2 linked regions of the Homo sapiens genome follow. Each later gene encodes a partner of the first gene's protein in a complex. Each region holds a gene or a part of one and is shown in the gene's direction. Other genes may lie near its edges. The genes, in order: PAXIP1 and H2AX.

The links.
Region 2: the proteins of PAXIP1 (region 1) and H2AX are in contact, whole or in part, in a crystal structure (PDB 3SQD), measured with the Homo sapiens proteins. Residues at the interface, in NP_031375.3 of Homo sapiens: Phe871, Thr872, Gly873, Phe874, Pro876, Lys907, Thr909, Arg910, Thr911, Val912, Lys913, Pro986, Glu1050, Leu1053; in NP_002096.1 of Homo sapiens: Gln138 (codon at 5,540), Ser140 (codon at 5,546), Gln141 (codon at 5,549), Glu142 (codon at 5,552), Tyr143 (codon at 5,555).

Annotation. Positions count from the first base shown.
Region 1 is NC_000007.14:154,997,645-155,011,095, reverse strand, and holds the start of PAXIP1 (PAX-interacting protein 1), read left to right. Parts: upstream 1-7,971; 5' UTR 7,972-8,166; coding exon 8,167-8,247; intron 8,248-9,556; exon of another isoform or gene 9,557-11,016; intron 11,017-12,311; coding exon 12,312-12,446; intron 12,447-13,451.
Region 2 is NC_000011.10:119,093,374-119,100,522, reverse strand, and holds H2AX (histone H2AX), read left to right. Parts: upstream 1-5,057; 5' UTR 5,058-5,128; coding exon 5,129-5,560; 3' UTR 5,561-6,649; downstream 6,650-7,149. Other genes in the region: DPAGT1 (UDP-N-acetylglucosamine--dolichyl-phosphate N-acetylglucosaminephosphotransferase), read left to right, coding at 115-261, 2,036-2,120, 2,480-2,668, 2,972-3,059, 3,226-3,525. UniProt on the Homo sapiens protein: Variant histone H2A which replaces conventional H2A in a subset of nucleosomes. Nucleosomes wrap and compact DNA into chromatin, limiting DNA accessibility to the cellular machineries which require DNA as a template.

The DNA of each region.
Region 1 (13,451 bases):
TTTGTTGAAGCCACTGAACTTTGGGAGTTAGTTCCCACAGCATAAGCTAGCAGGGAAAGCTTTTACCACTTGACGCACCCGGGCTTCAAATGACCACTGGATGTGTATATGCTAATAGGAAAAGAGAGAAAACGTAAAGAAACGAAAGTGAGGACTTGAAATAATTTTATCTTAATAGACTTATCACGCAGTTCTTGGGCACTCAACGTCAGTTACAAATCCTGGGGTCACTCTTAGGCTGTAACAATTTCTCGTTATTATAATTTTTAGCAGGGCACACATAGTACGCTGTTTGGCTTAAATCCACTCCAAACATGGGCCGACATCTTAATTTCTAGCTTCCTCTTGACTACCCTTCAGACATACTGAATGTTAGCTTGCTAGGGCTACTGTAACAAAGTGCCACATACTGGCAGCTTAAACAATAGACATTCATTCTCTCAGTTCTGGAGGCCAGAAATCGAAGATGAAGGTGGTGGCCAGGCTGTGCTTTCTCTGAAGGCGTTAGGGGAGAGGCGGTCCTGGCCTCTTCCAGCTTCTGGTGTCTGCCGCAACCTTGGTGTTCCTCAGCTTCTAGACACGTCACCCCAACCCTTGTCGCGGTCATCACTTGGCACTCTCCTGGGTGTCTGTGTTCAAATTTTCTTCTTCTTATATGAACACCAGTGACAGGATTTAGGTCCCATCCTCATCCAGTAGGACCTCATCTTAATGATGGGGGCAAAGACCCTACTTCCAAATAAGGTCACACTCACAGGTACCAGCGGTTAAAATCTGAGTTAAGATTCAATATGTCTTCTTGTTTACCCACAACATGAGTAAACAGTCAATCCCACAGCCAGCTTGTCACAAAGTACTTAACTTTAAATAGCTGGTAAGCAATTTTCTTTTCTGTTTTCACAGCCACAGAATTATGCTAAGTCTCAAATGCAACAACTTCCTCTGATGAGGTCTCAAGATCTTCATACGCTAGACACAGTCTATTATTTCTTATTACTCCCCATTTCTATCTTAAATCATCAGTTATTTAATATCCAAAATGTGCACCCTTTTATTTGGCAATATCAGTATTCTGGCCTCTTTTCAGTGGTTTCTCCTCTCCCTTCAAGAACTATTCCCCTCAGCCCGCTCCATCCAAGAGGTTTCCCCCAGCTATTCTGGCACATGGGAACCTCTTTTCTAAATCTCTGCTGCATTTCTACAGAATCCCACTAGTGTTAGGCTCGTGCATCCAAGTATTTGTTAGTTTTTTGAGAGCAGACACAATATTTTAAGAATTTCTCATTGTCCCTGTAAGAGTTTCCTGTCCATCACAACAGGGTCACCACTGGGGGCAGCACACTCAAATTACAATCATCTAAGAAGGTTTATCAAGGAACTACTTACAAAGGTGTAGGCAGGATGCATGGAGAGTGAAGGGACCTGTGGGGAGAAGCAGGTGAGCCCTCACCACCCTAGGTCCAAGGGATGAGAGGAAGGAAAGATTCCCAGGACCTGGAAGGAGAGAGTTGTATAGAATGGGCTCCTCTGCCAGCTCAAGGCAACCTGATGAGGAACCTGGGAAATAAACACCGTCATACCTCTCTCCTCCCTCCCCTCACTGCCCAGCTTTCTGCTGGGACTCCCCATTGACCAAATTCAACTAGAAGCCAATGTGCAAGGGATTCTACTTATATAATCTGCTCAGGTCAGCACCCAGGGGCGGAGAAAAAGGTGGAGCAGGATGGAGTACAGATCTGACATGGGGAGTGGGACAAATGGAAGGCATCTAACACATCCCTCACATGCCTCAGAGAACTACCTTGTGTTTGCTTTTTAAAAATAATGCTGTTTCTTTGTTGTTTGTTTTTGAGATAGACTCTCACTTTGTGGCCCAGACTGGCATGATCTCAGCTCACTGCAACCTCTGCCTCCCAGGTTCAAGCGATCCTTGTGGCTCAGTCTCCTGGGTAGCTGGGATTCCAGGCGTGCACCACCATGCCTGGCTAATTTTTTTGTATTTTCAGTAGAGATGGGGTTTTACCATTTGGCCAGGCGGGAAAAAGAATACGCTTAATCCTCTATGTATAAAGCCAGTAACCTCAAATTCAACAAATATCTATTGAGTAGCTAACGGGTATTTTTTTTGAAATTATCTTTGAGAATTTTGTTTTATATTACACTAATCTTAATTCATATAAGAATTTTTTTGAAAACCAAAAATGGCAAAAATTGGCAAGATACCATCAATGCCATTTTCTTTTCTTGGACGTGTAAGAAGACCACATCACCCAGCAGTCTCCTTTACAGCTTACGGAGGTGTCAGGAGACCAGGTTCTGGCCAGTGGAAATGGCTGGAGGTATGTGTGCCACTCTTGCTAGCTCAGCCATAGAAACTGCAGCAGGATACTCTACATGCTTTGTCCCCATCTGTACAGCTAACAAAGCCACATGACAGAAGCCAAGTCCCATTTGGAAGAAAGCTGTCCGAAGGAAGCCACCAAGGCGTTATGTGCAAGAAACTTTCTTTTTCGTTTTTTTTTGAGACAGAGTCTAGATCTGTCACCCAGGATGGAGTGCAGTGGTGCAATCTTGACTCAATGCAACCTCCACCTCACCGGTTCAAGCCATTCTCGTGCCTCAGCCTCCCGAGTAGCTGGGATTACAGGTGCGCACCACCATGCTCAACTAGTTTTTGTATTTTTAGTAAGAGATGAGGTTTCACCATGTTAGCCAGGCTGGTCTCGAACTCCTGACCTAAGTGATCCACCTGCCTCGGGCACCCAAAGTGTTGGGATTACAGGCATGAGCCACTGTGCCCGGTGGAAACTTTCAAAGTCTTATCCCACTGAAATGTAGTTACAACATGATCTTAATCCGGGTTTCTCAACAGTGGCACTATTGACATTTTGCACGGGTCCTTTGTCATGGAGGACGGTCCCATGCGTTGCGTGATGTTTAGCAGCTTCCTATCCTCCACCACTAGATGCCAGTAGCATCCCCTACCCCCTAGTTGTGACAACCAAAAATGTCTCCAGACGTTGTCAAATGTGCCATAGGGGGCTAAATTGCCCATGGTTGAGAATCGCTGATCCTGTTACCGCACTGTTCTCAGAGTGACGGGAGACAGGTATGGGACGTCGTTTCTAACCTTAAAGGATGGAACATTATAATACGTTATACATGTATTTTAAGATGATTGCTTCATTGGAGTACTGTAATTGTTAAATTGGAAACAACAAATGTGCAACAATACAGAATATTGTACATTCAAACAAGGGAGTATTATGTATTCATTAAATGATATAGATATTTATTGACATGGAAAAACAGTCTTGATTTTTTTGAAGTGGCAGAGTATGGGGTATAATTTTTTTTAGGGAAATATATTTATACGGGACAATGTCTAGAAGGATTTCCATAGTGGTTGCTTCTGGGCATAGAATTTGAGGTAATTTACAATTTCTCTTCACTTGTGATTTCTAGTTTTCCGACACTGAATAGCTACATGACACTGGTGGCAGCTGTGCCCCGCAGGTCCACTGACGGGATCTTTCCTGCAGAGAAGCAGTGCTCCTTTGAGTTCGCAGTTTCTCCTTCAACTAAACTATGGCCTGTTTGTGCCTGCAACTGGAGTATTCTGACCCTTTCATGAGAAGGTTAAATGTTGTCTATAAACCCAAACTGAAGGTTTACTAAACATTAAAAATATCTAATTTTAAGGGATGTATGGATAGCTGAACAGGAGAGATGAAGACTGAGACTGTTGTATACAATATAGAAATACATTTAAAAAAAGCCATTTGGAAATAATCTAAGTAACTGCCTCGAGTTTCCACCAGTAAGGGCAATTTGAGTTAAATATCCCCAAATCTACTTTTTTTTTTCTAATTTTTTATTTTTCCTAGGCTTAGGTTATCTAATTTTGCCAAATAGAAAATGAGAAACATATTTACTGAACTAGCACTGGCAGTAAGCAGGCTGTTTAATTCTCCAAAGGCTGATTATCAACAAAATGATCATGCTTTTAATTTACCTGGGGGAAGTCTAAAAATATTAATGCTCAGTGTCATATTTGGAAGTGGTATATGCTTCAAATTAAACAAATGCATAGCTTCTGTTTAATAAACTGATAGCTATCACCCTAAAATGGGTCATCCTTAAAGTGTCACAAAACCAGTGATAAGAATTTTATTTAACTGTGAATAAGATACAGCACTGTCAACATGATATTTTGTTCCTATAACTTTGCATATGGCCATTTTGGGGAAGATAATTTCTGAGTTTACCGCTTGCCTTTAAATATTGACTTGCCATCTTTACGTCCTCTGCTAGATGGGTTACTCTTCATGATGTCAGGATGCTAGTTTTTTAGACTGCCTCAGAGCATCCTTTATCCACATGAAATTAACCTAATGTAAACATTTTTATTTTTCATTACTGGCCAAGCAGTAGTATTGGAGACTCAGTGAGTGAGTGTGACACTGCCTCCAGGCCTTCCTGATGCTGTTGCCGTAAGATCCACTTGTGTGGACCGCCTTGCACAGTTCACGTGTGATATTTTACAAATACTGACTAGGTGATGGGGTTTTAAATAGCAGATTTATTTATTTATTTAGAGTCTCACTCTGCCACCTAAGCTGGAGTGCAGTGGTGTGATCTCTGCTCTCTGCAACCTCTGCTTCCCGGGTTCAAGTGATTCTCCTGCCTCAGCTTCCCAAGAAGGTAGGATTACAGGTGCACGCCACCATGCCCAGCTAATTTTTGTTTTTAGTAGAGACTGGCTTTCACCATGTTGGCCAGGCTGGTGTTGAACTCCTGACCTCCAGTGATCTGCCTGCCTTGGCCTCCCAAAGTGCTGGGATTATAGGGGTGAGCCACCACGCTGGCCTTAAATAGCAGGTTTCTTAATCCCGCAATTTGCCTTACCATCAGAACCTGAAGTAGGGTAAGCTTGTTCTCTTGAACGTTACAAATTGCTTTCTTAATTCACAAAATAAAATACCTGGTTGAGGTCCACTTCAGGTCTTTTAACATAAAATCACATGCTTAGTTTGTGTTTAACCAAGAAAATCAAAGGGAGGGCCGGGTGTGATGGCTCACGCCTTTAACCCCAGCACTTTGGGAGGCCGAGGCAGAAGGATCACAAGGTCAGGAGTTCAAGACCAGCCTGGCCAACATAGTGAAAACCTGTCTCTACTAAAAATACCAAAATTAGCCAGGTGTGGTGGCACGCACCTGTAGTCCCAGCTACTTGGGAGGCTGAGGTGGGAGAATCGCTTGAACCCAGGGGGTGGAAGTTGTAGTGAGCTGAGACCACGCCATTGCACTCCAGCCTGGGTGAGAGTGGGACTCCGTTTCAAAAAAAAGAAAGAAAAAGAAAAGGATAAATAAGTTCTCTCACACAGGTCGATAAAAAGGCAGCATGATCTGTATTTGGATCTAATGTATTTATTACACTGATATATGCCCAACATAGAACATTAAACATCAGAATGATAAACATATACCAGAATATATCAAATATATTCTTAGGTATTAAAAGGTTTCCTGATTACAAAGGGTGTCATAAAAATTTAAGGATGGATGACAAATTCTTGGTTTTTCCTTCAGGCAAGCACTGAGTGTTTTTATTACAGGTTGAGTAACCTTTATCTGAAATGCTTGGGACAAAAGTATTTCAGATATTTTTGATTTGGAATATTTGCATATACATAATAAGATATCTTGGGGATGGGACCCAAGTCTAAATGGGAAATTCATTTGTTTCACATACACCTTACCTTACCCACATAGCCTGAAGGTAAGGTTATATTATATATTTTAAATAATTTTGTGCATGAAACAAAGTTTTGATGGCGTTTTAAAAAAAAATGTTTTCATTGTTTTTTTTGTTTTGGTTTTTGTTTTTTTACAGACAGGGTCTGGCTATATCGTCCAGGCTGGACTCAAACTCCTGGGCTCAAGCAATCCTCCTGCTCAACCTCCCGAGTAGCTGGCACTACAGGTGCCCACCACACCAGGCTTGATTGTGACTTGACTGTCACCCAGTGTCACATGAGGGCAAGTGTGGAATTTTCCATTTGTGGGGTCACGTCAGTACTCAAAAAAATTCGAATTTTAGAGCATTTTGGATTTCAGATTAGGAATGTTTAACCTAAGTTTGTAAAGGAAATTTTTTAGCCTTAGAATAGGGATGTTTCAGATTGTTCAAGAGACAAATGAAAGACTAAAACAACCAGAAAACATTGGAATGATAAATCATTAAGTATATTTAAATGTGCGTTGTTTACCTCCTGCCCATACAAAACCACTCATGACATACATACAAATGTAAGGACAAAACTGTAGTCACCTGATTAACAAGAGCCAGAGTTCATTGCATGCTGATCAACGAACCAACACAACTTTTATCATACACTAAAAAAAGGGTAGAACAAAGGCCAACTTAAAGCCTGGAAAGTGATCTAATCTGTTAAATTAGTGTACCGCAGAGTAATTTTGAAAGCCTTCTCGTTTTGTTTTGTTTTTTTTCAGAGACAGAGTCTCGCTCTGTCGCCCAGGCTGGAGTGCAGCGGCGCGATCTCGGCTCATTGCAACCTCCCCCACCCGAGTTCAAGCCATTCTCCTGCCTCAGCCTCCTGAGTAGCTGGGACTACAGGCGCGTGCCGCCACGCCCGGCTAATTTTTTGTATTTTAGTAGGGACGGGGTTTCACCGTGTCGCCCAGGCTGGTCTCGAACTCCTGAACTCAGGCAATCCGCCCACCTCGGCCTCCTAAAGGATAGGATTACAGGCGTGAGCCACCGCGCCCGGCCCCTTCTCTTTTTTAAAACCAATTTCACTAACATTTACTTAAAAATGATTTTCTGCTTGGCAGAAGTGACTTAAGGCATGTGGGGGAGACACTGCGGGTCTGTCTCAGATTCCTTTAGACACCAATGCTCCACAGTTTTACGACTAGGTAATAGTCCGATAATCACCCATGAGTTCCTGGACTCCGGTTTGTTGTGGGATTGGAAATAAACGAGAAAGGCTGCGTTCATCATCATGGCCTTAATTTCTTCTCCCAACTTCCGGTCGTGCAGGTGTCTTGGGCAGGTGATCCCGAGGCCACTCTGCCGTGTTCTGTGAATCTTGGCGGAAGGGAGGCGAGCTGTAAATAAAAGCGTGACCATTAGAATCGCCGCTGTGTAGTATTAACCTGTTGAGCGCGGGGCTTCCCGGGGCTGGAGCTGCACCGCGGGCTCTGCTGTCTGGGACTCTCCTCCAGCGCGGACCCGACAGGACGCCAGGGACCAGGCCGGTCCGGCCGGGACAGCGGGGCCTCGGGCAGCGACGGGGCCGGGCCTCCCCCCAGCACGTCCCCAGCTCGGGCACTGAGGCCTTGCGGAGACCCCAGGACTCGCCGCGGAGGCCACCAGTGCGCGTCTCGCGTGGCGCTACGGCCTCGGGAATTCCGTCACGGCATAGCCGGGTCCAGCGCGGTGTAGACCGGGGCCCCGCGCCTTGCTCGGCCAGAGCGGCTCAGGTACTACTCCAGGTCCGGCCGCACTCGCGGCCACTGCGAACAGCCGGGACACCCAATCCCACTCCGCCCAGGGCCAAGAAGCCCGAGGAGGCCGCAGAACCGCTCCCGCTCCCACTCGCGGCCCCAAGGCCCCACCCCCCCCTCCGCCGCGCGCATGCGCCGCCCCCGAGCAGCCGCATGTGGCGACGGGAGGGGCCTGCCAGCTCCCCTCCTCCCCGGGACCGGCTCACTCCGGCCCCGCCGAGGGGGGAGCTGGTTTCCCCTCGTCCTCGGGGCCCCCTCGTTGCAGAGCGGCGGCCACGGAACCGCAAGGGCCAGAGCGGGCTGCCGGCGCCAGCTACCCCGGAGCCGTGGCTGGCGGCAGAGGCGCGGGGCGTCACTGGAGGCCGGGCGGCTCCTCGGCGCTCCCCCTCGGTGGCCGGGGCGGGATGGTGCGTCCCGCAGGGCGCGCGCGGCTCCCGCGCTTCGGGCGCTCGGCGCGGGCGCGGGCGGGGGCGCGGAGGGCGGGGGAGCGGACCCCGATTCGCAGGACCGGGCCCGGGCTGCGCGGGCAGGGCCGTTGGCGGGGCGAGTGGGGGCGCCGGGCGCCGCGGGGGCCGGGGGCGGGGGGTGGGCGGGGCCGGGCGCCGCCGCGGAGCCTCCCGGGCCGCCGCGATCATGTCGGACCAGGCGCCCAAAGTTCCTGAGGAGATGTTCAGGGAGGTCAAGTATTACGCGGTGGGCGACATCGACCCGCAGGTACCGCGCCCGCCCCTGCCGCGGCCTCCTCCCCCGTCCGCGTCCCCGTCCGTCCCCGTCCCCGTCCCCGTCCCCGCTCCTGCCGCGGGCGCGCGCCGGGCGCAGAGCGTCGGGTCCGCCGAGGCCGCTGGCCTGACTGCGCTGAGGGCAGGGGCGACCGCGGGGTGGGCGCGGGAGGCCCGGGCCCGGGGGAGTGCGGGAGGGAAGGCGGCTGGGGCTCTGTACCTCGGCCCCTAGTGCGCGCCCTGAGCCCCCGGCCTGCGGCCCTGGGGTCGCCGCCCCCGACCCACCGGGCCGCCTCGTTCTCTGCTCCTTTGCTGAGCGGGACGGGCGCGGGGTCGCGTCTCCCCATTCCCCGCGCCGGGCGTCTCGGCTCCCGGGAGAGCAGCTCCGAGGGCGGACGAGGGGCGCCGGGATCCCCAGCCGGGGCAGCTCGCGCGGGGACCCCAGCCTCGCTCGGCCGGCGGGGGTCGTGGCCGTGCACCGGCTTGGCCGCCTCCGCCACCCGGGCAGCTGCCGTCCTGTGCGGGGCTGAGGAGCGCTCCCTTCCAGCCTGTGTCCCTGCACGTGGGGGCTGGCATTCGTCTTCCTTGATTTTCCCACTTGGACGATTAATTTTACGGTACCCTGGTAACACCATCACATTACACATTTAATTTTGTGTAGTTTGGGCTCACGCCAAAGGATATTGTGGGTTTTCCTTAGTATTCCTATAATAATATATCTGTTTGATGTCACACAGTTATCAGTCCGTGGTAGGAATGCATCTTAGTTGAATATCCTCTTCAGGTTAATCTTCAAAATATTTCCTTCTTAAAAGTTTAGCTGTACAGTTGTGTTGCCTTGGGTGTGACATCAGTGGCCCCCACCTTGGAGGATGGGGATCCCCAGTGATCAGAGTTAGGCCTGGAAGGGCGGAGACTCATATTTCGCAGATGAACTTGGATGGTGTAGAAGGAATTGTAGAAGGCTGAGTGATCTTGGCCTTCTTGAGGTTCGTCCTTGTAACAACTTTTTGGACCCTTTTTGCCCTGTAACTTTAGGGTAAAGAGACTTCAAGGCCGGGTTTACCCCTGTAATCCCAGCACTTTGGGAGGCCAAGGCGGGTGGATCACCTGAGGTCATGAGTTCGAGACCAGCCTGGCCAACATGGTGAAGCCTCATCTCTACTAAAAATACAAAAATTAGCCGGGCGTGGTGGCGGGCGCCTGTGGTCTCAGCTACTCGGGAGGCTGAGGCAGGAGAATTGCTGGAACCTGGGAGGTGGAAGTTGCAGTGAGCCGAGATCGCGCCACTGCACTCCAGCCTGGGCAACAACAGCTAGACTCCGTCTCAAAAAAAAAAAAAAAGCCTTCTATCTTTGAATTTACAGAGTAAAACAGTTGCTGAACACGGAGCGATGAAGATGAGTGCCTGTAACAGTGTTAGCTTTTTCCAGTATTGATGATTCCCCCGCCCCTCTTTTTTTTGTTTGTTTTTTTGTTTTTGTTTTTTGCTATCCACCATTTTTCTCTTCCCCCTCCTTCCTAGCCTTCGTGTTTCATTTTAGGACTTTGGCTCTTATAGGGGACTTGAACCAAATGTTACTTAAAACCTGGAACAAGTTGAACTGGAACCATATTTACTCGACTTTGAATCAAATCTAAGTGCTTAAAAATGTCCTTGGCAAACCACTTTCATCTGAAACAGTATATTTTCTGAAAAGTTTTGAGCCTGGACATCTGATTCTCTGACTCTTATGACTGTGGATTATAAGTTCACATGTTGACCATCTAATATGAGGCAGGCATGGACTAGGTGCCAGGTATAATACAGAGGTGAAGAGGACATGGTACCTGCCCTTTAGCGCCCCTCATTGGTGGGGGAGGGAGCACACCTGGACATATCACAGTACAAGGTGTAGCAGATTTCTCCACTGGGGTGCAAAGTAGACACCACTGAAATGTCACTCAGTAGATGTCATTTCAGTTGGGTTTTGAGATAAGCAGAAGTTAAGAACATGAAGGAATATTTTCATGTGGAGCGTATGTGCTGAGGAATGAAGGCATTCATGCGTTTGGGATACATCAGGATGATCACTATATCTGGAACAGAGTGATATGAGATAAATCTATTAAGATACTCAGTAGTGTGGAGATTGAAGAGAAGCTATTGGTTTTGGCATCCTCAAAGTTCGTGAAAACCGAGTAAAGTGTTTTTGGTAGAGTGTTGGTGGAAGGGGCTGGATTGCAGGGAGTTGAAGAGTGAATGGAAACTGAGAACAGAAAGGTTAGACTCTTCAGGAAGTTTGTCCTGAGAAGGAAATAGAGAAGGTGCCTGAGGAAGAGAGGGCTGGGGAGGGATCTGTGTTGCATCACAAGCGCGTGGAAGGATGTGGGTGACTTTACTGTTTACAGGTGGAGGGAACATAGCTATGGACAGGGAAACTCATGAAGAAGGGAGTAGGATCAGAAACAGACTGGAGGATAGGAAAAGGAGGGGTGCCTTTTCTGAAGACCAGTCGAATGGATGCGTGAAGCTAAAAATGCTTAGAGGTCAAGGGAAGGAAGAAAGGTAAAGTGGCCCATGGCCAGTGACCGCTGTTTTTTCACTTACTAAATATTGAGCCTCTGCTCTAGTTCATATCTATTAGTGGTCGGTAAAGTATTCTGAAAAGGTTGTCTAGCTTGTGGGTGACTTTATTTTTTTTTGAGGTTGGAGCAAAAGTTTAATAAGTGAAAGAAGAAAGCTCTCTGCTGCAGAGAGGGGACCTGGAAGAGCGTTGCCCTGGTGGGTCACTTGAGCTTTGTGGGCACCATGTCACTTTGACAGTTGGTGTGCACTGTCAGCTTAGACACTGCCCACCTCTTCTGAAGCACTTGACTGTCGACTGTTCCTTAACCCTCACTTCCTTGGCTTCTGTTGACGCTCCTCTCCTGTGATACTGCACTTCCCTACCTGTCCCTGAAGTATCAGTTGCTGTGTCTGCTCTCTAGCTCCCCTCCCATTCTGCACTGCGACCACCTTCACGCTCATGGCTGTGGCTCCCATCTATGTAACAATGCTGATGACTTTCTGTCAGGGAGATCCACATCTTTTCCTAGCTGCAACTGGATGCCTCTTGCCAGATATTAACACGACCCCCAAAGAATGGCATGCCCAAACTAAAACACGTCCTTGTGTCCCCACCTGCCAGCCTTCTGATGTGTTCCTCAGTGAGTGGTACTCACCACCATTTCAGTCTGGACTTTGCTCTTTTGCTTATACCCCTTCCAGACACCAAGGCTTGCCGATTCTCTCACATCTTCCTCCTTTCTGCCCATCAGGACATCACTTTAGTGGATGCCTCTTTCACCTGGGTTATTGCACTTGTTTCTTAACAGGTCTCTTGTCTTTAGTCATCTAGCCAACCAAACACAGCCAGCCCACCCAATCCTTTCTTTTCACATGGACTGTCATCTTTGTATGAAATCTGTGCTACTTTTCCTGTGTGAAATCCTTCAGTGGCCCTGCATATACCCCAGAATGAAGCACAGACTTTTTTGCATAGTGTGTAAGAAAGCCCATTTACGGTCTGCTCTGTATTCACCTGTTCAGTGCCTTCAACACTGCTCCCTCTTCCTCGATGTATGGATTTTTGCCTAACACCCAGACGTTTATGAGGGTTCTGCTCACATATCTTGTCTTCCAGAATCTTTCCCTAATTATGAAACTCCCCATGTCCCAGTCTTTAAGTTGGAAGCTCAGGAGCACCATGTGCGTGGCCCCACCGCAGCAGTGGTTGTGCTGTCTCCTGGTTTGTCCAGCCCATCTGTCTTGAGGACAGACCATGTCCACTACTGGACTCACAATAGCCTCCATTACTTGGTCATTGACTTGGTCAGTGAATCAAGATTTGCTGCTTTTGATTGTCCCCGAAAGTTTCATTGGCATATTATTCAGAGTAAAAGGCTGTTAGTTTTTATGTGGGGAATATGGTGTGTTTTTATTAAAAAGTACTATTATGCCCAATAATTATTTCTGTAATTCAAGAGTACAGTACAGTATTGCCCATTTTAATTTGTGTGGATTTTCTTGTTTTTTAGGTTATTCAGCTTCTCAAGGCTGGAAAAGCGAAGGAAGTTTCCTACAATGCACTAGCCTCACACATAATCTCAGAGGATGGGGACAATCCAGAGGTGGGAGAAGCTCGGGAAGTCTTTGACTTACCTGTTGTAAAGGTCAGTAGTAAACATAATTTGTTTTATATCTTTTCCTCAGTATCTTGCAAGCAGTACATTGAAGTTTCACTATAGCTCTTTTCAGGGTTTTTGCTAAAGTCCTGTTTTATTTTATTTTTATTTTTTATTTATTTATTTTTTTGAGCTGGAATCTCGCTCTGTTGCCCAGGCTGGAGTGCAATGGCACGATCTCAGCTCACTGCAACCTCCGCCTCCCGGGTTCAAGTGATTCTCATGCCTCAGCCTCCTGAGTAGCTGGGATTACAAGTGCCTGCCACCACGCCTGGCTAATTTTTGTATTCTAGTAGAGACAGGGTTTCAACATGTTGGGCCAGGCTTGTCTTGAATTCCTGACCTCAGGTGATCCGCCTGCCTCAGCCTCCCAAAGTGCTGGGGTTACAGGCATGAGCCACCGTGCTGGCCCTAAAGTCCTGTTTTGTGTGGAAAGTTGCCAGATAACTGTGGACATCTTTAACGTCTGAGTAACTTCCCTTAGCTTCAGGTCCTTTCAGCTAAACCAAGGTAGAGCATGGCTTCTGTATGTCGTAAGTAATCCTAGGCCATCCTTTATGCCTGCTGCAGAACTCGTCCCACGTTACCACTGCCTGGAAGTTTTCTGAGCCAGGGAAACCTGTCATGGGAAACAGATCTGATGCCTTGAATCAGATGGGTGTTTGAATTATTGTAAGAGTGTATTTCATTCCAAAAGCAGGCTAAGGCCTGTCGGGAGGTAACTCTAGGACAGGGTTACTTTCCATCCCGACTGTGGCAAGGTGTTCTGAATTTCAGTTAGCTGAAGGGCGTCCCCCATTAACTATGTTGTGGAACTCCTTTCTGACAAGAGTCACAATGGCCTTTAGTCACATTGTCTACCCACTGGTCGTCTGGGGTGTATCCAACTTGACCTATGGGTAATTTATTGCAGAGAATGAGGGATTCAGCTAGTGGAAGAATTGTTCAGATTTTGTTTATCCACCTACTGTATTATGTTATGGCTGATAAGTT
Region 2 (7,149 bases), on another chromosome or scaffold:
GATCCTTTCTGGTAGCCCTTCATCCTATCGTCCGTCCTCACCACTTTTCTAAAAATTCTTAAATCCTCCTCCCCTAGGTGGCACTACTTCTTTTCCTACCATCTCTCCCCGCAGGAATCCTGTACTATGTCTACATGGGGCTGCTGGCAGTGTTCTGTACCAATGCCATCAATATCCTAGCAGGAATTAACGGCCTAGAGGCTGGCCAGTCACTAGTCATTTCTGCTTCCATCATTGTCTTCAACCTGGTAGAGTTGGAAGGTAGGTGGGATTGGGGGTGGGGAGAGAGAAGTCTGAGTGTTAAAGGTGTGGCCTGATATATGACTTTGGGAAATTCAGGGGAAAAAAGCAATATGCATAGTAATTATAGAAGATAAGGGAAGCTACTTACTTTGCAAATAACAATGCAGATTTATTAAAAGTGAGAAAGAAAAATAGTAGCCCTGTCATTTATAGCTGGATTGGCACTAATAGCTAGGCCATGATCTTCTCCCATTGAATATAAACAGTTTCACAGAACCCCAACGTTACACAGGGTCATTCTGTGACCGTGATGGAGCAAGACTAAAACTAGACCCCTCCCTCTGTAATCATGTTTGAGCACAGGCAAAACCACAAGAACACTGAGCAACCCACAAAATGGCCAAGATCCCCTCTCTCGGCTAACATGAGCGACTGCTGCTGCTCTCCAATAACAACTCAGTTCCTACCACTTCTTTTTTTTTTTTTTTTTTTTTTTTTTGAGACAGGGTCTCCCTCTGTCATGCAGGCTGGAGAGCAGTGGCGCGATCTTAGCTCACTGCATCCTCTGACTCAAACGATCCTCCTGCCCCAGCCTCCCAAGTAGCTGGGGCTACAGGCATGTGCCACCACACCTGGCAAATTTTTGTATTTTTTGTAGAGACAGGGTTTCACCATGTTGCCTAGGCTGGTCTTGAACTCCTGGGCTCAAGTGATCTGCCAGGCCTCCCAAAGTGCTGGGATTACACTCTTGAGCCACTGTGCCCAGCCAGTTCCTACCATTTCTTAAATAAACATTAAAATGCTTGATCATAGAATTACTCTTGCTTTCTTTTCTTTTCTTTTTTTTTTTTTTTTTTTGAGACGGAGTTTTGTTCTTGCCCAGGCTGGAGTACAATGGTGCGATCTCGGCTCACCGCAACCTCCGCCTCCCAGGTTCAAGCGATTCTCCTGCCTCAGCCTCCCTAGTAGCTGGGATTACAGGCATGTGCCACCACGCCCAGCTAATTTTGTATTTCTAGTAGAGACGGGGTTTCTCCATGTTGGTCAGGCTGGTCTCGAACTCCTGACCTCAGGTGATCTGCCTGCTTCAGCCTCCCAAAGTGCTGGGATTACAGGCGTGAGTCACCGCACCCGGCCATGAATTACTCCTGCTTTCTAACAGCACCCAGTCCAGAGCAAAACTACTTTCTTTCACCCTCTCCCAAAATACCCAAAACAAACGCTACTACAAGCCCCTCCTAACACCCTCTTACTGAGACATTCCGTGGTTCCCAATGGTGTGTGGTTTCTGAAGTCTCCCTTTTTACAACAAGTCATTAAACCTAGCTTTGAACTATAGATGTGTTTCTGATGGTCTTTGGCTGATGAACATCAACAAGTGTTTATTAAAGCTAAGTACTTTTTAAACACTATCTTATTTAAATCTTGTAATGGTTTTATGTGGCAGATGTTATAATCAGCCCTGTTTTACAGATGAGAAAACAGGCTTAGAGAAGTTAAATGTGTCATGATCAAGATCAAGGTCACAAAGCTAAGAAGTAAAGTTGGTATCCAAACTTACATCAGAATGGGCTAAACCAAATTTAAGATAGTAACTAGTTTGGAAGGCTGCACGAAAGAGGTGGAATATTGGGAATTGCCTTGGGTGACATAAAAGGAGTATTGAGTTCTTAAAAGTGACTTGGGTGAGGTGGATGATAACAGCTGTAAACAGAACTTAGACAAAAATAGGACCAAGGTTTGCAGAGGAAGTGGGTATTAACTTTTCCTTCTTTCTTCCTTGCTTCCAAAGGTGATTGTCGGGATGATCATGTCTTTTCCCTCTACTTCATGATACCCTTTTTTTTCACCACTTTGGGATTGCTCTACCACAACTGGTAAGTAGGCCTGTGGATAAGGGGACAACTACCTGAACACATGGCAAAGATGGCCCTTATCATAACCCACCTTGTGGTGGTGAAGCTAAACCTGCGCATACCTCTATGGAGTTTTCTGCGTCTTCAGTTGGTCGTATTCTGAAATTTCTCTCTACCCAGTAGTAGTTAGGGATGAGTGCGTGGAGGCCCCAGGAATAGATGAATTCAGGGCCTTGGATCCTGCAGAGTTGCTGCACAACTGGAGTCTCCTCTGAGTCAGAACTAGGGTCAGGGCTAGTCCAGTGCCCATAGGGTGTGATGTGAGAGAAGGGATTGGTAATGCCTCTTGCCACTGGCTCGGATCCTCTTCCCCCACACAGGTACCCATCACGGGTGTTTGTGGGAGATACCTTCTGTTACTTTGCTGGCATGACCTTTGCCGTGGTGGGCATCTTGGGACACTTCAGCAAGACCATGCTACTATTCTTCATGCCCCAGGTGTTCAACTTCCTCTACTCACTGCCTCAGCTCCTGCATATCATCCCCTGCCCTCGCCACCGCATACCCAGGTAGCCGCTTTTTGGCTTGAAATGGACATCATAGCCTTTTCACTTGGGATATCTAATGCCAGCCTATACATTTGCTGTGCAAAGGGAGTGGGCCCAAAGAAGGGCTATTTCCATGTGAGTAGCCCTTTATAACTTACAAAGCACATTTATTTGCATAATCTGCTACAGTGGTTCTGATAACAGTAAGCAGCAGAGCCAGAAATAGATCTCAGGTTGACTCCACATTCAATGCTCTTCCTATTAGCCACAGGGAGGAGGGTTCAAATAGTGGCCCAGTCACATGAAGCTATCTTCCCCCCGCAGACTCAATATCAAGACAGGCAAACTGGAGATGAGCTATTCCAAGTTCAAGACCAAGAGCCTCTCTTTCTTGGGCACCTTTATTTTAAAGGTAACAGGGTAACAAGGAGGTAAGGCCCTAGGCTGCCATCCTGACCTTGAGGAATGGGGAACCTAGTCCTACATCAGATCCAAGGGGAACTTGAAAGCATTAAATAGATCCACATTCCTAAAGCATAGGTATTAGCTGAGGTTCTCTTCACCTCTGGTCCCTCCAGGTGGCAGAGAGCCTCCAGCTGGTGACAGTACACCAGAGTGAGACTGAAGATGGTGAATTCACTGAATGTAACAACATGACCCTCATCAACTTGCTACTTAAAGTCCTTGGGCCCATACATGAGAGAAACCTCACATTGCTCCTGCTGCTGCTGCAGGTGAGGATGGGAATCGAGTTTATACCTCCGTGTCTCCCTTTCTGCGTGATTCTTACTCCAGTCCATTTCTCCTTGCAGATCCTGGGCAGTGCCATCACCTTCTCCATTCGATATCAGCTCGTTCGACTCTTCTATGATGTCTGAGTCCCTTGATCATTGTCCTTTACCTCACAGTCTCTAGGATTCCTGACTCAGGCTGACCTCTCTCTCTGGTCCCAGACTGCCTCCTTGCCCAGGCCTCTCTCACTCTTCATACTCCTCCAGATTTTGTTCTCAGCATTTTCCTTTCTCTGTGATCATTGGCATCCTGGGCGTTTCTTGCCCTCTGCTGACTACTGATTGGATTTTACCTATGGCTTTCTGCAACTTGCTACTCTCTCCCTCTCCATCCCATCTTTGCAGCCTCATAGGGTGGGATACAGCAGCTTTTTTTGCAGTTATCCACACTCACATTTCAGAGTCCTGACTCTCAAGGAACCACTGGTTTTTGGGATAGAACTTGGGCCAGGGCTAGGAACACAGGCTCCACGGTGACATGTCATTTGATTGTAAATTAAGTGTTCTGATTAGTAAGAACTAAGCAGGGGGCCACATGCTCTCAATGGAGACAATAAAGTGTTGTCTTTTTCTTATTGTTTATGTAGGTATATTTCCTATATGGGCATTTTTGGGTAGATTGGGAGGGGTGGTGGGGGTACTTCCTCCAACAGGATGCCTATCTCTCTGCCCCATCAGACCCCGTCTAACAAGAAGTGAACAGAACTGAGACCAAACAGAACATATTGAATAAATATTTAAATCCTGATACTAGAGGTGGCATGGAGGGCCACAAAATTGAAGTTATCCTGTTTCCTGGCATGGGAACAAACTTTCAAAGAGTCACCGGGTGCAGTGGCTCATGCCTGTAATCCCAGCACTTTAGGAGGCTGAGGCAGGAGGATTGCCTGAGCCCAGGAATTCAAGACAGCCTGGGCAACAAAACGAGACTCCGTCTCTACAAAAATAAAATAATTAGCCAAGTGTGGTGGAGCACTTGTAGTACCAGCTACGAGGGAGGTTTAGCAGGGAGGATTCCTTGAACCCAGGAGTTCGAGGCTGCAGTGAGCTGAGATCACACTACTGCACTCCAGCCTGGGTGACAGAGCCAGTGACACCCGGTCTATTAAAAAAAGAAAGAAAGAAAAAAAAGAAAACTTTTAAGGGGTCTAATTTCTTCACTTTTCCATTCTCCCTTTGTCAGGTAGGAGAAGGGAGTAGGGAGTGACTGGACCTGGAAAGGAGGGCTGCAGTAGCTATAATATTGACCCCTTTCCTTTAAAAATCCTACGCCGGCACAGATTTCCCAGACGCTCTCTAGGTGGCCTCAGACTCCACCCCTTTGGTCTTCCGCTTCTGGTTTCCGATTGTAGTGTTTAAATCTCGCGCGCTTTACAAGGATTGGCTACATCAGCGGATAGTTGGCAGTCTGCGTGCTACCCCTCCTCCTCGCCTTTTCTCCCCGGGCAAAAGGTTTTCAAATTCGACCAATCAGCGGGCGCGCTCCCTCAGCCGAGCCGCGACACCCAAGGGTTAACCGCAACCAACCGGAGGCGGGTATTGGAGAAAAGAGCCAATCAGGAGGGCGCAGAGGTGTGTCCTGGGGGCTTATAAAGGCGGCCTCGCGGCGCGCGCGCGACAGCAGTTACACTGCGGCGGGCGTCTGTTCTAGTGTTTGAGCCGTCGTGCTTCACCGGTCTACCTCGCTAGCATGTCGGGCCGCGGCAAGACTGGCGGCAAGGCCCGCGCCAAGGCCAAGTCGCGCTCGTCGCGCGCCGGCCTCCAGTTCCCAGTGGGCCGTGTACACCGGCTGCTGCGGAAGGGCCACTACGCCGAGCGCGTTGGCGCCGGCGCGCCAGTGTACCTGGCGGCAGTGCTGGAGTACCTCACCGCTGAGATCCTGGAGCTGGCGGGCAATGCGGCCCGCGACAACAAGAAGACGCGAATCATCCCCCGCCACCTGCAGCTGGCCATCCGCAACGACGAGGAGCTCAACAAGCTGCTGGGCGGCGTGACGATCGCCCAGGGAGGCGTCCTGCCCAACATCCAGGCCGTGCTGCTGCCCAAGAAGACCAGCGCCACCGTGGGGCCGAAGGCGCCCTCGGGCGGCAAGAAGGCCACCCAGGCCTCCCAGGAGTACTAAGAGGGCCCGCGCCGCGGCCGGCCGCCAGGCCTCCCCATGCCACCACAAAGGCCCTTTTAAGGGCCACCACCGCCCTCATGGAAAGAGCTGAGCCGCTTCAGACTGCGGGGCAAGCGGGCCGCGGCTCCCTTCCCCTCCCCTCCCCTCGCCCGCCTTCGCCGCCCGGCCTCGAGTCCCCGCCCGCCCCCGCTCCCGTCCCGCACCGCCTGCCGCGTCGGCCTCGGGCCCTGCCCTGTCCGCCGTCCGCCCTCCGGTAGGGTTCGGGCCTTCCGGATGCGGCTTGGGCGCTCTTCGGGGACCTCCGTGGCGCGGAAGACCCGAGCCTGCCGGGGGGAGGCCGGCGGCGCCGCACCTGCCCGCCTCGGCGTTCGTGACTCAGCCGCCCCATCCCGAGTCGCTAAGGGGCTGCGGGGAGGCCGCAGCACCTTCTGGAAGACTTGGCCTTCCGCTCTGACGCAGGGCCGAGGTGGGCAGTCCAGGCCGAGAGGCCGGCGGCCCTGAAGGTGAGTGAGGCCCTCGGCAGCTGCAGCCGGGGTGTCTGGTACCCCCCCGGCGTGGTGCTTAGCCCAGGACTTTCAGACGCGGCCGCTGGCCGGGAGGCTTTGGTGGGAGAGACGCGATCGCCGATTTCGGTCTGGCGCCCCTTCTGCGGCCGGGACCCAGGCCTTTCACATCAGCTCTCCCTCCATCTTCATTCATAGGTCTGCGCTGGGGCCGGGACGAAGCACTTGGTAACAGGCACATCTTCCTCCCGAGTGACTGCCTCCTAGGAGGACATTTAGGGGAGGGCAGAGGCCTGCAGTTTGGCTTCACGGCTGGCTATGTGGACAGCAAGAGTCGTTTTCGCGGAAGCCGACTGGCAGCCAGGCCTGTCGGGCCCCCCGACGCCGCCCCATTTCCCTTCCAGCAAACTCAACTCGGCAATCCAAGCACCTAGATACCAGCACAAGTCGGTTAATCCCTGTCTGGACTGAGCCTCCGTTGGCTTCTGAACTGGAATTCTGCAGCTAACCCTTCCACGACTAGAACCTTAGGCATTGGGGAGTTTTAGATGGACTAATTTTATTAAAGGATTGTTTTTTTTTTAAATGGAGCGTTTGTTTTCATTTTGCAAGAGAGTTGTAGAATTAGTGACTTTCTATACTTTCCTGATAATAGGGGTGGGAGGGGCCATGCAATATAAACAGGCTCTACTGTTAACTGAAGGGGCAAACCATAGGAATTTAAGATTGTGGCTCTGTTTCTTGGTGTTCCTGGGAGACAATTTATTCTGTGTGAAATGAAAACTATTGAGGCAGAAGCAGAAAGGACGTACCAGGAGAACTCTGGGCAAAAGTCCCAGCCTCTGAGGTAAGGATGAAAGGGCTTTGTGTTTGTTCCTATCTTCCCGCCAACTCCACACGCGCACACACAACACCTTCAGAACTGGTTTATTAGTAGGATTGGTTACATTCAAAGGCTGTTGCTTGGACTTCTCTAAAGAGATGAAGCCCCCACATACTGAGGAGGCAAGGCAGTCATCAAGGCCCCAAGGTGAGGCAAATCCCTGGAAGGCTTGAACCCTGCAGTTCAGTCTCCCGGGGTAATCA